Linked DNA regions of Homo sapiens. The protein of the gene in region 1 interacts with the protein of each later gene in a pairwise test. Each region holds a gene or a part of one and is shown in the gene's direction. Other genes may lie near its edges.

Region 1 (3,988 bases):
GGCAAATCCAGGGGCCTGACTCCGCGCCTGTTCTGCGGTGAGGTTCAGAAACCTGCAGACACCTTTGTTCCAAGAGTCTTCATTGTATTTCGGAACCAAGCGCGTCTCCATTCTTGAAGTGAAAAAGACCTTAAGAAAAACCTCCAAACGTCCACCGGCCACAGAAATTGGGGGTGGAGGCGCTCCAGTATTGATAGTGATTAAAAGGAAGGCCTCAGCTTGACTTTGGCCAGTTGAGTTGAGCCGATTTTTTTTAACCTTTAATTTATGTGGTCAAAGGCTAGAGGAGAGAGAACACTGATCTCCAGAGTTCAAAATAAAATCTAAACGCCCACATAGACGCTGCTGTCCTACTGTAAAACTACAGTACTTTCATCCTCGCATAAAGACTTCCAAGATTGTACCCATGCAGTAATTCATGGAGACATCACAGATGTTCTCCTGAAGCATATCAACGCAATCTGCTCTTTGTTGAAAACTGACCGAAAACTTGCTTTCTTTGGCATCATACCCTACACCGCTATCCCTAATCAGTTTCCCTCCTGTTACAGGCAGTAGTTAGAGAACAGGTTTCGGTGAGGTACAGATCCTAAGAGCGCAGGCCCTGGGCTCACAAGAACCCTGGGTCCCAGGCCCCAGCTTGTTATCTTCCAACACTGTCCTGATTTCCATCACTCTCCAGGGTAAACTGAGGGAATAAAACCTGTTGACTTAGTTGGTTGTGAGGAGTTCAATAAATGTTTCCTGTGTTATTGATCAGGAACCAGAATCTGTGTGTGTGTGTGTGTGTGTGTGTGTGTGTGTGTGTGTATTTACCTTCATTTTTCTCTTTGTAAATCTCTTCGCAGTAACAGTAAGGATTCGTGTTGGAATTAAGTCTGTAAGATCTTTCTTGAGATACTTTTTTTGTTCTAATAATATATATATTTTTTAATTTGCCATCGTGTTCAATGTTAATTTCAGTTTGAGGGGAATTCCTGACAGGATTGCAGAACCTCAAACTTCCCAAGTCATTGGGTTAATGTTTTGGGGAGCTGCTTGAAGGAATAGAGAGATGAGTCGATTATAGTAGCAGGAATGACGTGACAATTGCCATATTAATAGCTCAGCTTTTTCCAATTCCCTTACACATTCTGTGACTCATTTTCTGTAGCTTGGATGATTTCTCTATCTAAAACTTTGTGGTCTGAGATCAGCAGTGGATGGTGAGACCCCACAGATAAGCTCTCTTGTAGGGGGTATATGTAGCCTGAAAACTAAGGCCAGTCCTGTGAAACTGTTGATATTTGACCCTTTTGACCAAATTTTCATTTGGTTTACCCTTACACTTGCGACATAGGTCAGGGCTTCAGTAAGAGTCACGAGCAGCAAAAACAGCCTGGAACTGATAGGCATCGTTGCCTTTTGATACTGATCATTCTTCAGAAAAGAGATAAAGAGTTAGTATTTACTAAACACATACTCTGCATGTGCCAGGCACAGTGTTGAGGGGCTCTGTTATCATCCACATTTCATAGATGAGGAAATGGAAACTCAGAGAAATGAATTTGCAGCCCAGGTCGCAGAGCCTGAAAACCAGATGGGGAAATTTGCACCTCAACAAAGTGTATTCTCACACTCACTGTAGTTTTTGAAACAATTTCCTTTTCTGGGTTAAAGACTTATTTTTGTGCAGTGCAGTTATAACATCACTGTGATGCAACAGCCTGAAAATTAAAACCCTTTGTGAGAGGCCTTTCGGACGTTGAGCAATGTGCCTGACTCACCAGCTGAGTGGATTTTTCTAGTTGACCTTGCCTTGGTCATTAGAGTCAATTTCGAGATGTAAATGCGATTGCAGCATGGAATGGAAAAGGTGCAGTCATATTGCCTGGGCTTTATTTTTACCCAGGTTAAACTCATATACTTCATGATTTCCATTGTAATCCAGATGCCATTGATGCTGTTAAAGTTGTTTATTTTTAATTTGTATTGAGGAATGAGAGCACACTTGGGATTCAATTCAAAATATAACAGAAACAATGTAATTGAAATTGCCTTTAATATTCATTTCTTGTTTTTGTAAGGTATGCCTGTATTTCACGGGGTTTAATACATTGTTTGATATCCTGTTATTTTTCTAAATTATATTTGAGTTGATTTCTATCCAGGTTGGACTTGTATGAGAATGTTGAAAGACGTTGACCTTTGATCACAGACATTACAATATGAATTTTTCAGTTTCAAAATGAATTTTTATTACTACTACCCCAGTTATCTTTCACATTTCTTTGTAAGTAACTTTACTGTAGTTAAAAAAAAAAAAAACACCCAAAACTGTTTCTCATATGGCTTTAATAATAGAGCATAAACTTGTTTTTATGATAAGAAAGTTTACTAGAGATTTGCTAGATGCCATTTGTTATTAATCTGTGCTTTGAGGACTCAGTTTCATAGGACTCAGAATGATGTTTATAAGCCTTTTAGTTATCAGAACATGATGTCTTTTATTAATTAGCTTTTTAGGGGTCTTAAACTGTAATTAACTGGCCTTCAAATAAACACTACAAATAAGCATTTGAAAATCCACTCTATTCATAAGGTAGAAAATGACATTTATAATCATCCACTGACTGGAAAAGTGGAAAAAGAAATTAAAAAGCCAAGTGAAGCAAGTTGGGATGATTCTACATTATCATTAGAAACTTTCAAGAATTTTCTCAGCCTGACTGTCCCCTTAGCCCACCATTTTTGCCATCATTACACCATGTTGCATGTATTACTTATTCATTGGGGAATTTTCTACAACTGGGTTACTTTGTGATTGTTGGTGTCCTTTTAAGATTTCAGATTAGTTGCTACACTGATCAGTTATCTTTTCAGAAGTTTCAAGATATTAATAGTCCCCACATTTAAGTTTCTATAGATTTTTAAAAAATTATTACTGTTCTGTTTTTCCCCCATGTTACTACCCATCTTTAGTGAGAGCTGTTCTTATTTCTCAAGCTGTGCAGTTAATTGGTCGTGCTAGCGTGTATGTGCTTACTCTGTGCAGGCTTCAGAATAATTTAATTGTGTATTAAGTTTCAAACACTGACGACCTCTTAAAGAAGAATGTTAAGTTATACTATTTCATATTTCAATTACTTAAATTACATCAGTGATGTAATAAAATGCAATGTTGTCATCGTATTTATTAAATTTAAATTTAATTTTCAGCTAGTCCTTTGTCGAACTTGAAATATTTTCATTTATCATAAACTGGATCAGGCTTTGACACATTTATTTACAGAGGCACCCAAATAGAAAAAGTAGGTCAATTTGTTGCTATGATAGAATAGATTCTGGCAGTGTGCGAGAGTGTGTGTGTATGTGTGTGTGTGCGTCTTGCCTGTCTTGATCAAGTGCACATTTCTCTCTAACTTTGGGGTAAGCTGCTTCTTGGGGACAGAATGGCCCTTAGAGAGGTTTAACATAGTTTTCTCAGCTTAAAAATCCTTCTCTTTTTCAACGGGATTAGAAAATTCTCTTGCAACTTCGGTGTTTTCTGACTGAGTTTTTTCACTCCCCATTTCCTCTGGGTTGTACATGTATAGTGAATTCTTTTCTTATTTCATCTCTGCTTTTAAATACTAGATTGTTTTCTCATCCATGAAAAGAAGTAAAGCATTTCATTGACGCAGATACTGTGAATTTTACCCACAGGAAGAAAATGTAGGGTTAACATATTGCTAGTATTCATACTTTAAAAGTATAAAGAGATGTGAATTGATTAATTGATTTGATTTTTTCATGAAAATGACATTTATCTAAAAAATAAGCATCTGCTGTCTTACTGGAGAGGTGGCTTACAGTTTAACATAACTTAGGTTTACCTTGAAGACATTTTTTTTTCCTTTACTGTTATCTGTATTATATAACAGGGAGAAAACAATACATTCAGAGAGTAGAGGGAAAATAAGATAATTCTATAATGTTTCCAAATCATTGGGCATATCAAATAGTATTT
Region 2 (3,988 bases), on another chromosome or scaffold:
TTCTGTTTTAATTCTCCTTTTGTTGAGCATCTCACACAAGCACCCTGCACACTTAGTTCCTTTTCTCCTGCAGACAACTGTAGGGTTCATTGTATATAGTACAGATGTTGATTAAAAAAGAGAAAGGCATAACTTGACCAGTTAGTTTCTAAAAGATATCAATAGCTAATAAGTGGACCTAAGATAATCAGCTGAAAAATTATTTGAAATAATAAGAGAATGCAGTCAGCTTCTAAAATTAAAACAAAATGTAATAACGTTCCTATATGCAAAACATAACCAATTAGGAAATTAATGGAAGGAAAGATCCTGTTTATAATACCAATGACAACAGCAAATGGAAGGAAGGAATAATTTAACAAAAATTATGAAGAGTGTATCCTAAATGATTTTTAAAAGATTCAAATAATTGGAAAGATATACCTTATGTAAAGTTAGCAATTTTCCTTAAGTTAATTGATAAATTTAATGAGATCCCAATAAAAAACCCAATAGGGTTTTCTGGGATTTGGGCAAGAACTAGATTAGCTATTCTAAGTTTCCAGTGAAAAAAAATCATATGACAATTGCCAGGAAAATTCTAAAGAAGAAGTATAATGAAAAAAGATTAACTGACCAACATATTAAAGTGAAACACAAATACAGAAATCAAAACAATGTGGAAAAGACAGAACATTGAACAGGATAGAATATGGAAACAGACCCAAAAACAAATTCAGATTTTAAGACCCAAATACATATTTCAACTCCTAGGACACAAGTATAAATACAAAATGGGCTGGGCACGGTGGCTCACGCTTGTAATCCTAGCACTTTGGGAGGCCAAGGTGGGCAGATCACTTGAAGTCAGGAGTTCGAGACCAGCCTGGCCAACATGGTAAATGTTAAATTTTTTAAAAAAAGGAAGCTAAAGAAACTTGAAAAGACAAATAACCATTAAAAATTTATCTTGGAATGAGGAATTATTTTCTAAATAAAACATAAAACCCTGAAGCCATAAAGGAAAAGATTGATATACATTACTTTTATTCATAAAAAGTAAAAGTTTCTTTATAGATCAAAATACTGTATGCAAAATCAAAGGCAAATGACAAGCTGAGGAAAAATATCTGTAATACATATGACCAAAAAAGGTATGTTTACTTACTATATGAGAGAGCTCTTATGAATAGGAGATGATTAACAACCCAAAAGAAAAATGAACAATGGGCCGGGCGCGGCGGCTCACGCCTTAATCCCAGCAATTTGGGAGGCCGAGGCGGGCGGATCACGAGGTCAGCAGATCGAGACCATCCTGGCTAACACAGTGAAACCCCGTCTCTACTAAAAATACAAAAAATTAGCCAGGCGTGGTGGCGGGTGCCTGTAGTCCCAGCTACTTGAGAGGCTGAGGCAGGAGAATGGCGTGAACCCGGGAGGCGGAGCTTGCAGTGAACCAAGATAGCGCCACTGCACTCCAGCCTGGGAGACAGAGCGAGACTCCGTCAAAAAAAAAAAAAAAAAAGTAAAGAAAAATGAACAATGACTATGAATAGGCAATTTACAGAAAAGAGAAATAAGTGGCAAATAAATGTGTGAAAAGATGGTAGACCTTATTTAGTTAGGAAAATGCCAATTAAAGCAGCAGTGAGGCTGGCAAAGATGAAACATGTTGTTGATACACGATGTTGCCAAGGTAATGGAGAAGCAGGCACCATCACACACAGCTAGTAGTAGAGTCTGCATAACCCTGGTAGAAGGCAATTTGCCCACGTCCATTCAAATTATAGGTGCACATACCCTGCGACTCAGCAATTTGACATCCAGGAGTGTGTTCACAAACAAATCCACACATCATACAATTCTGTACATGTAAAGATAATCATTGCTGCATTGTTTCTTATAGGAAAGACTGAACATAAGCTAAAAAAATCCACCAATAAGGGATTCAATAAATTATTGTCCATTCTGTGGAATATTGCAGATATGTTAAAATAATGAGTTACATCTGAATGTGCTAATCTGGAAGGATTATCACTTCTGTACTTTAAGTTAAAAAGGCATAAATATAGTCCATAGTTTGCTACCATTAGTTTTTTAATTTAATGTTTTATTTATTTATTTATTTTTTATTTTTAGAGACAGGGTCTCACTATGTTGCCCAGGCTGGTCTCGAACTCCTGAGCTCAAGTGATCTGCCCTGCCCACCTTGGCCTCCCAAAGTGCTGGGATTACAGGTGTGAGCAACAGCACCCAGCCCCTTCTGTGTTTTTAATAAAAAGAAAAAGTTACATATATGCATAAGTATAAATGCAAACTTTTTCAAATAGATTATAAAAAATTGTTAATGATATTTATTTCTGAAAAGTAGGACTAAAGATCTAAAGCAAGAGGGAGATACTTGGCATTCTTTACCTTTTATACAGTTTGGGATTTTTTATCACATGCTTTTATCTTTATAATATAGATATCAAAATTCTCAGCATTGATCATTACCACACATGCATTAGGAGGATTTCTTTTCTAATTTTGACATCAAACATTGAATAATCTTCCATCACGACATGGAAGAGTATTCAATCTTGACGTTATCTTTTGAACATCATACATAAATATCTCAGCCCTTGGGAGAACCAACTGTAAGTTGGGATTTGAGTGACTCTAAGGTCCACAGTACTATATGATAAAAGATGGCAAATCCGTTTCCTTTGTGTAGCCATCTTGGTTGGTTGGTCATGGCTATCTGGTGCCGTACAGCTGGAAGGATTTCAAGTCAAAGACCAGGATCAGTGGAAAAGAGAGCTGAGGTCAATTAAGAAGCTTTATTCATGAAAAGGCTAAAATCAGTGGAGTTGCCGGGAGCAGTGGCAAATAGCAGTGTTAGCCCTGAGCCGAGCTGTTGACAAGTCATATCTGGCCTGGTGGATGGAGCTGAAAGCAAGTGAGAGTAACAGCCAAGTTTGAAAGCTTGAGATTTAGGTACTGTCTTAGATGGAAGTGGGCCAGGTGCTTGCCTGGGGCTGCCTCCTGAAGGAGTCTCACACCAGTATAAGAAAAAAGAGAGGTTTACAGGCTCCAGGGATGTGCTTTGTCATATATGACAGAAAAGTCATGAGTATAAATTATGCATTAAATGAAGCTTTGAGCTAACACTGTGAGAAATACGGTATTTACAATTGGAGAAAAATTGAGTAATGGAGGAAAAGATGTTTGGGTAGCACTATTGTTCTTGGCCTTCTGAGGAGGCAGAGAAGGATGCTTACGGTCCTATTTCACTCCTGGAATTCTTTTGCTCTCTCTGGGAGACCATGCCATAATGTTTGTTGGCACAGATAAGTCACAGGTCAGGAATGTTCAGGCTAGTTCCACCCTTAAAAAGTTCAATGTAGAATCAGTGAACCATCTATGGAAAGAGATGCGACCCTTCTGTCTCCATTGCTATGAATTTCTTTTAAGAAAAAACCATGTTAATTGAACAAACGACTATGTATTAACCACTGTGCCTCAAGTGCTCTCCCTGCAGCATCTCATTTAATCTGCATAAAAGCTGTATTTTATAATTCCTTGCATTAAGTAACTTGATGGAGATGACACAGCTTGTGACTAGGTCTGTCTGACGTCAGAACCCATTTTCCTAACCATTAAGTTTTACTGCCTCTTTCTTCAAACTCTGATGAAGATGTATTCATCTTCCCTAACCTATATTTTCCTTGAATCTCTACATGAATTAATTTTTTTGTCTTTTAAGCAATATCCTCCAAAATCTACACTGTCCCCCAGCCATCATCAGGCGTGATCAAGAAAGTAAAGACATGTTTACTTTCAATACAGTATATCCATTGTACAATTGATATCATATATGTCATATATATCATGATATCAACATATATAGATAGGTACTATATATAGATAGATACAATTGGTATATCAAATGATACAATATGTCAATTGAAATCTTTTTTGAGAAGTCTGTGTAGCAATAAATGTTAACATCTTTCACAGGAATTAC
Region 3 (3,988 bases), on another chromosome or scaffold:
CAGTGGGCTGGTCTCGGCTCACTCACTGCAAGCTCCGCCTCCCGGGTTCAAGCAATTCTCCTGCCCCAGCCCCCCGAGTAGCTGGGATTACAGGTGTGAGCCACCGCGCCCGGCCTGTTTTATTATTTATACATTCATAATTTGTGATTCTTAGCAATTCCAGGTGAAACTTCAAACTTGTATTCATTAATACTTGAACATTCACCTGGAACATGTTACTAAATTGTACTTCTGCACTGTTCCAGCCATGGATAAAAATTACAGCTGGATCTGCTTGAATCTTTTTTTTTTTTTCATGAACACCTACATTTAGAAAGCTAATAAATTACTTGACAGAGTTTGCTTGAAGAATGTTAAAAGAACACTTCTTTGGGAATTTAAAACTTAAGTGTTACCTGTTTTGAATGATTTTTTTTTTGTTTACATAAAGAGCCTGAAGAAACTTAGACACCTGATCCATAAAAATGGCACCTTTTTCTACTTTCTGAAACTCATATTCTTGATTAGGTCTCATTATTAGAAATTTTGGGTTCTTCATAGAGAAGTAGCTTTATTTCTCTCTCATTCTAAGACATTTGGTTTTGTTTGTTTGGATACAGTATGGTTATGGGGTTATAGTAAAACCAAGTATGTCTTCCTCACGTGTTTTTAAATTCTACTTTTTATAACAGAAAATTATTTTTAACCTAATGCTTACAATATATTACCGAAATTTATAATTTCATTTATTCCATAAATAGCTTATCAGATATGAGTTACATAAACTTGTTTACAGCCAGCTTGTGACATAGTTTTGCAAATATCTTGATATATGGTGTAACTTTGATGGCTTCTTTATTGAATAGAGCTCAAATCTAAATTTAAGAATGTAATGAGATGTCAAGATGGAAAAATGCAGGATTTTTTTTTTTCTTACCCATGTGTAAACTCATCTGTACTGCAGTATCACTTGAGACAGCAGTTTATGGTAATTCAAATATTTATTTGGCACTCACTGTGACAGAGAATGTAGTTGAAAGAGCATGAGGTTTGGAATCATAGGCCTAGGTCTGAATCCAAGCATTGCCACTGCTATCCTGTACCCACCCTAAAGGAATTTTGTGTCCTGAAGGAAGTTTCTTAATCTTTCTCAGCCTCAGTTTCCTTATATGTAAAATTAGAATACTACTACTTATTTCATAAGATTGCGAGATAAACATAAAGTACCTTAGGGCTACAACTAATGATAGCTAGTCCCTTAAGCTTTATTTTAACTTCCTACCTGTGGGCCCTTAGGCAAGTTATCTTAACTTCTTAATACCTCACTTTCCTTTCTGATCAGTGTAGAACAACTACCTCAGAATTGTGGGGGTTAACTATAAAGTAATACATACTAAGTCCCAGGCATTGTGCAAGTGTCAAGTGCTCAAGTGTTGACAAGGCTTTTTTCTTTTGTTTTAATTTTTTTTTGAGACGGAGTCTTGCTCTGTTGCCCAGGATGGTGTGCAGTGATGCAGTCTCAGCTCACGGCAACCTCTGCTTCCTGGATTCAAGTGATTCTCCTGCCTCAGCCTCCCTAGTAGCTGGAACTACAGGCATGCACCACCACGCCCGGCTAATTTTTGTGTTTTTAGTAGAGACAGGGTTTCACCATGTTGGTCAGGCTGGTCTTGAATGCCTGGGATTATAGGCGTGAGCCACCACGCCCAGCTGGTCTGTTACTTTTTAAATTATTTATTATTACTATATGTAATACAGTGGGTCAGAAGCTACAACAAATCCAAAGATGAATTACGCTGTCTTATCTCTACCCTCAGGAACTGTTGGGGACACAGTGACTAAGGCAAAATATGTGTCAAAAGAAAGCAGTCAAAGGAAAAAGGGATCACCTTTGGTGAAGTGAGGAGTATATTTTTTATATTTCTAATTTGGTTTTTTGAATAAGTAATTCATTCACATGATCTATAATTCAAAACATAATAACAGCAAAATGCCCTACATTCTCTTGCCCTATTACCTAAGTGTTAGCAATTTTTTATTTGTCCTTTAAGAGGTGTTTTATGCAAACACGAGCAAATATGTATGTACAGTCTCCCCCTTTTTGTACAAATGGTAGCATACTAGGTATACGCTCTCCTATATCATGCTTTACCCCCACCACTTAATATGGCTTAGCAATTTTGTATCAGCACATAAAGAGCTTCTTCATTTTTTAACATACAATTGGAAGCATTTTATTATGTAAGTAGACTGTATTAACCAGTTAGTGAGCTGCTTTTATTCTTAGGTCTTATATTACCTTTTAAACTAAGGGAAACTGCCATCTTGCCTTTATTTCTTTAAATGAAAAACTTTCTATTTGAATGAAAAATAAATAGTTTGTGACAGGAAATTGTTATTTAAAGTCCCTCATTTCCTGTTTAACTCCAGTTTTTAAAAGTTTTAGTAAAATGATCAAAATGTACATGAGGAGGCAAGCAAGCCAGGTTAAGAGTTAACTCACAAGGTGAATTTAACTCTTTTGTTGAGGTTCTTACAGTTCTGAACAGACTACTTCTTTCAATTATTATTTTGGCCCAAAAGGTTTTTATAGCTTTCTTTCTTAATGAGAAAGAACATTTCATATAGTCCGGTGTTTTTTTGGGTTTTTTTTAACAGACAGCTCATGGGATATTATTACCCAGTAAGGCTGATTACTATACTAGATTTCTCCCTGCATTCATTTATTTTTTACATACTTGTTAACTTACCTTGACGATTTTCTAGTATTTCTTAATGTAATTATGTGAGTTTTATATTTTGTACCTAAATTTAAAAATAGTGAGATTCACCTATATGATTGCTGAGATGATAAACTTTACTGCATAGATGATTTTTTTACCCCCGTGGGGAAACCTTTGGTCAACCAGTTGGACCAAGTAATACGTATTTCAGCCAAAGCACAAAATGCGTTTCACTACCTTTTTTTTTTCCTCTAGCTTTTCGAAACAGCATTGAGCTACAATACTTTTTTATTTATTTATTTATTTATTTATTTTTATTTATTTATTTTTTTGAGGCAAGGTTTGGCTCTATCACCCAGGCTGGAGTGCAGTGGCACACACTTGGCTCACTGCAACCTCTGTTTCCTGGCTCAAGCCATCCTCCCATTTCAGCTTCCTGAGTGAGTGGGACAACAGGCGCGCACCACCAGGCCCGGCTAATTTTTTGTAGAGACAGAGTTTCGCCATGTTGCCCAGGCTGGTCTCAAACTCATGAGCTCAAGCCATCCACCTGCCTCAGCCTCCCAAAGAGTTGGGATTACAAGCGTGAGCCACCATGCCCGAATGCTGTAGTACATTTTAAATATACATGCTGTTTGTATTTATCTTTAAAATGTACACACTATGACTTTTTTGAGTTGATTAAACTCAGAAAGTGATTAATAATATAGCAGCAAGGGCACAAATCTCTTTCCAGAAAACATCATTAAGTAAAGCTGTCATGGGCCAGTCGCGGTGGCTGACGCCTGTGTGATCCCAGCACTTTGGGAGGCTGAGGTAGGTGGATCACCTGAGGTCAGGAGTTCGAGACCAGCCTGGCCAACATGGTGAAACCCCGTCTCTACTAAAAATACAAAAATTAGCTGGGCATGGGGGCAGGCGCCTGCAATCCCAGCTACTCAGGAGGCTGAGGCAGGATAATCACTTGGACCTGGAAGGCAGAGGTTGCAGTGAGCTGAGATTGCACCATTGCACGCCAGGCTGGGCGACAAGAGCGAAACTCTGTCTTAAGAAAAAAACAAAAGCTGTCATGGTATATTTCGTTTTTTGTATTCCCAAGTTGGTGTTTATGCGTTGATCATATATACAAAGTTTTTAATGTAAGAATATTGTTTTGAGGTTTTACTAATATTTGATTTAAAATATTACTATGTGCTATTTGGCCAGGCGTGGTGGCTCACGTCTGTAATCCCGGCACTTTGGGAGGTCGAGGCGGGCGGATCACTTGAGGCCAGGAGTTTGAGACC
Region 4 (3,988 bases), on another chromosome or scaffold:
CCTTCCTGTCTTCCCACCACAACTACTGCTAGTCTTCAAGTTTAGCCTGGCTTTGTCTGCCTTTTCACTCCTGCAGGCAGGTTGTTGTGGGCCCAGTTGGAGGAAGTCATGCAGCTGAGTAGATTGATGCCAATCTATGTGTGTGGTCTGCCACCCTGGCTGAGTCTTCAGCCCCACCAGCAGTCCTTCCATGGGAACGTCAGCTCCTCTGCTACTCCCCTCAACTGTTCTTTCAGATTCTGTTTGAGACATCTACCCAACCTGTCCATTCTGCCCTTTCCTTTTCCCTAGCAGAAAAAAATAGAAGCCTAGCATGAATTTAGTAGCATTGAATTCAGTCTGTTGAATAGTCTATCCCACAATCGACAAATTTATGTGCAGTCATTTTTAACCTCTTCATTCAGCAAAGGATCAGTCGAAGGCAGACCTTATACCCCAGGTTCTCTCTGCCACCTCAGTAAACTTGTGTCACTCTTATAATTTTACCCTGTGTTCGTCAACCAGTCCTATCCCTTCAGCATGTGCACATAGACAGGTCTTTTCCATAAAACCTTAACAAAGAAACAAAAAAACCCATGATCTTTTAGCAGGTATTAGTTCTTTCCTTTGATTGTCAGGCTTCAGAAAGTAACCTTTGTTATCTATCTCTACTTTTTGTCATTCATCTTTTACCCACTGTAATCAGGTTTGTTTCCCTAATGACCACAGAAACTTTTACTGAAGTTCCTTATTGAACCTTAAATTCAGCATGTCCAAAACTATACTGATCCATTTTTTAGAGGCTTGTCTGTCTTGGTTAGATAATGGCACCACTATTTGCCTGTCACCCAGACCTGAAGCCTAGGAGTCCTAGATTCCTTCTTATCATCCTCTCATCCTCTATCCCATCACCAAGTCATCTGAGTTCAGCCTCAACATCTCTGGTATCCATCCCATCTTTCCCACTCTTTTTTTTTTTTTTTTTTTTTTGAGTTGGAGTTTCACTCTTGTTGCCCAGGCTGGAGTGCAATGGCACAATCTTGGCTCACTGCAACCTCCACCTCCTGGGTTCGAGTGATTCTCCCGCCTCAGGCTCCCAAGTAGCTGGGATTATAGGCATGTGCCACCACGCTCGGCTAATTTTGTATTTTTGGTAGAGATGGGGTTTCTCCATGTTGGTCAGGTTGGTCTCAAACTCCCAACCTCAGGTGATCTGCCCGAAAGTGGATCTTGGCCTTCCAAAGTGCTGGGATTACAGGCGTGAGTCACTGCTCCCGGCCCATCTTTCCCACTCTTGCTGATACCATGTTAGTTTAGGCAGATTGGGAGCTTTGTAGAAATGCAGAATCTCAGTCTTACTTCAGACTTACTGTATCAGAATCTGTATTACAACAAGATCTTTAGGTGATTAATGTGCCCATTCATTAAATATAGCCTGTCTATTTTATTGCATTAATCCCACTGTTGAAATTATTTGCTTACAACACTCTTATATACCAAAGTGACCTGAAGGACGGATGCTGTGTCTTGTTTATCTGCATATTTCTAGCGCAGTGCCTGGTACAGAATAAGTATCTAATCACTGTTGATTGAAATTATTCTATAATGTTCTTTGTATTTTGCTGATGACTAATATTTGTATATGTTTTCCCACATACTATAAGAAAAATTCACTTAATAAATGCCATTTTCTTTTTTTTTTTTTTTTTGAGATGGAGTCTTCCTCTGTCGCCCAGGCTGGAGTGTGGTGGTGTGATCTCAGCTCACTGCTACCTCTGCCTTCCGGGTTTCAAGTGATTCTCCTGCCTCAGCCTCCTGAATAGCTGGGATTACAGGCATGCGCCACCATCCTCAGCTCATTTTTGTATTTGTATTTATTTTATTTTATTTTTTGAGACAGAGTCTCACTCTGTCGCCCAGGCTGGAGTGCAGTGGAGCGATCTCAGCTCACTGTAACCTCCGCCTCCTGGTTTCACCAATTCTCCTGCCTCAGCCTCTTGAGTAGCTGGGATTACAGGCTCATACTACCACACCCGGCTAGTTTTTGTATTTTTATTAGAGACGGGGTTTCACCATGTTGGCAAGTGTGGTCTCAAACTCCTTACCTCAAGTGATCCACCAGCTTCTGCCTCCCAAAGTGCTAGGATTACAGGCATGAGACACTGTGCCCGGCTGAATTTTTGTATTTTTAGTAGAGACAGGGTTTCACCATGTTGGCTAGGCTGGTCTCGAACTCCTGACCTCCAGTGACCTGCCCTCCTTGGCCTCCCAAAGTGCTGGGATTACAGGTGTGAGCCACTGCACCTGGCCACTAAATGCCCTTTCTAAAGGCATTGCCTGGATATCATCTCATCAAGTCAGTGCTTCTTAGCCTGGCCTTAATTCAGAATCACCTGGGGTATGTTGGCAAAATATAGATGCTCAGCCTGTTAGAATGAGATCTTTGTTTCCTTTTTTTTTTTTTTTTTGATATGGAGTCTCGCTCTGTCACCCAGGCTAGATGGCAGTGGCGCAGTCTCGGCCCACTGCAACCTCTGCCTCCCGGGTTTAAGAAATTCTCTGCCTCAGCCTCCCAAAGTGCTGGGATTACAGGTATGTGCCACCATGCTCAGCTAATTTTTTTGTATTTTTTAGTAGAGACAAGATTTTGCCATCTTGGCCAGGCTGGTCTTGAACTCCTGACCTTGTGATCCACCCACCTTGGCCTCCCAAAGTGCTGGGATTACAGGTGTGAGTCACCGCACCCAGCTTGCATTTTTTTTTTTCTTCTTTGAGGAGTCTTGCTCTGTCACCCAGGCTGGATGGAGTGCGGTGGTGCAGTCTCAGCTCACTGCAACCTCCTCCCGGTTCAAGTGATTCTTGCCTTGGCCTCTCTAGAGCTGGGATTACAAGGTGTGTGCCACCAAACCTGGCTAGTTTTTGTATTTTTAGTAGAGATGGGGTTTCATCATGTTGGCCAGGCTGGTCTTGAACTCCTGACCTCAAATGATCCGCCTGTCTTGGCCTCCCAAACTGCTGGGATTACAGGTGTGAGCCACCGTGCCCGGCCCTTCCTTTGCTTTGAAGGAAAATATTTAGCAGGTAGAGCATGTATTAATAAGTTTTCTCGGCCTGGCACGGTGGCTTATGCCTGTAATCCCAGCACTCTGGGAGGCTGGGGTGGGCGGATCATGAGGTCAGGAGTTCGAGATCAGCCTGACCAACGTGGTGAAACCCCGTCTCTACTAAAAATACAAAAATTAGCCGAGCGTGATGGCACGTGTCTATAATTCCTGCTATTTAGGAGGCTGAGGCAGGAGAATCACTTGACCCCGGGAGGTGGAGGTTGCAGTGAGCTGAGATCACGCCACTGCACTCCAGCCTGGGTGACAGAACGAAACTCTGTCTCAAAAAAATAAAATAAGTTTTCTCTAGCTGGATCCTCTGCTGAGCCTATGGAGGCAGACCTCTAGATGCTTACTGGAGCCAGTGAGTTAAGTCCCTTTCTCTACATGTATGTGTATATGTATGTATGCATATATTTTTTATTTTATTTTTATTTTTTTGTTTCACTTATTGTTTTCAACACAAAGGCATACTTCTTCCTGCTATTTGTGTGTATATAAAACAGCATGTTATGTTTGGATTGATTAGTACAGGATGAAGAAATCAAACCTTTTTTTGAAGGTTTTGATGGATGATTTTCAGTTCTGTTACAAAAAATGTGTATTTTGAAGGGAACGAACTAATAAAAAAGGTTACATACAGCCTGGGCAACATAGTGAGACCTTATTTCTATTTAAAGAAAAAAAAAAAAGAAAAGCCAGGTGTAGTGGTGCATATGTGTAGTCCCAACTACTGGGGAGGTTGAGGTGGGAGGATTGGTTGAGCCCAGGAAGTCCAGGCTGCAGTGAGCTATGATGGTACCACTGCACTCCAGCCTGGGCAACAGCGTGAGATCCCCTCTCAAAAAAAAAATTATGAAAATTTTATCTGATTGCTGCTGTTCTTTCTTTCTTTCTTTTTTAAA

The links.
Region 2: the proteins of NFIL3 (region 1) and BATF come close enough for resonance energy transfer, tested with the Homo sapiens proteins (one large-scale study listed by BioGRID and IntAct).
Region 3: the proteins of NFIL3 (region 1) and CREB1 interact in binary tests that used the Homo sapiens proteins (3 or more experiments, as listed by UniProt).
Region 4: the proteins of NFIL3 (region 1) and RINT1 interact in binary tests that used the Homo sapiens proteins (3 or more experiments, as listed by UniProt).

What each region holds. Positions count from the first base shown.
Region 1 is NC_000009.12:91,417,175-91,421,162, reverse strand, and holds part of NFIL3 (nuclear factor interleukin-3-regulated protein), read left to right. Parts: intron 1-1,807; exon of another isoform or gene 1,808-3,988.
Region 2 is NC_000014.9:75,528,576-75,532,563, forward strand, and holds part of BATF (basic leucine zipper transcriptional factor ATF-like), read left to right. Parts: intron 1-3,988. UniProt on the Homo sapiens protein: AP-1 family transcription factor that controls the differentiation of lineage-specific cells in the immune system: specifically mediates the differentiation of T-helper 17 cells (Th17), follicular T-helper cells (TfH), CD8(+) dendritic cells and class-switch recombination (CSR) in B-cells.
Region 3 is NC_000002.12:207,532,806-207,536,793, forward strand, and holds part of CREB1 (cyclic AMP-responsive element-binding protein 1), read left to right. Parts: intron 1-3,988.
Region 4 is NC_000007.14:105,538,409-105,542,396, forward strand, and holds part of RINT1 (RAD50-interacting protein 1), read left to right. Parts: intron 1-3,318; exon of another isoform or gene 3,319-3,447; intron 3,448-3,988. UniProt on the Homo sapiens protein: Involved in regulation of membrane traffic between the Golgi and the endoplasmic reticulum (ER); the function is proposed to depend on its association in the NRZ complex which is believed to play a role in SNARE assembly at the ER.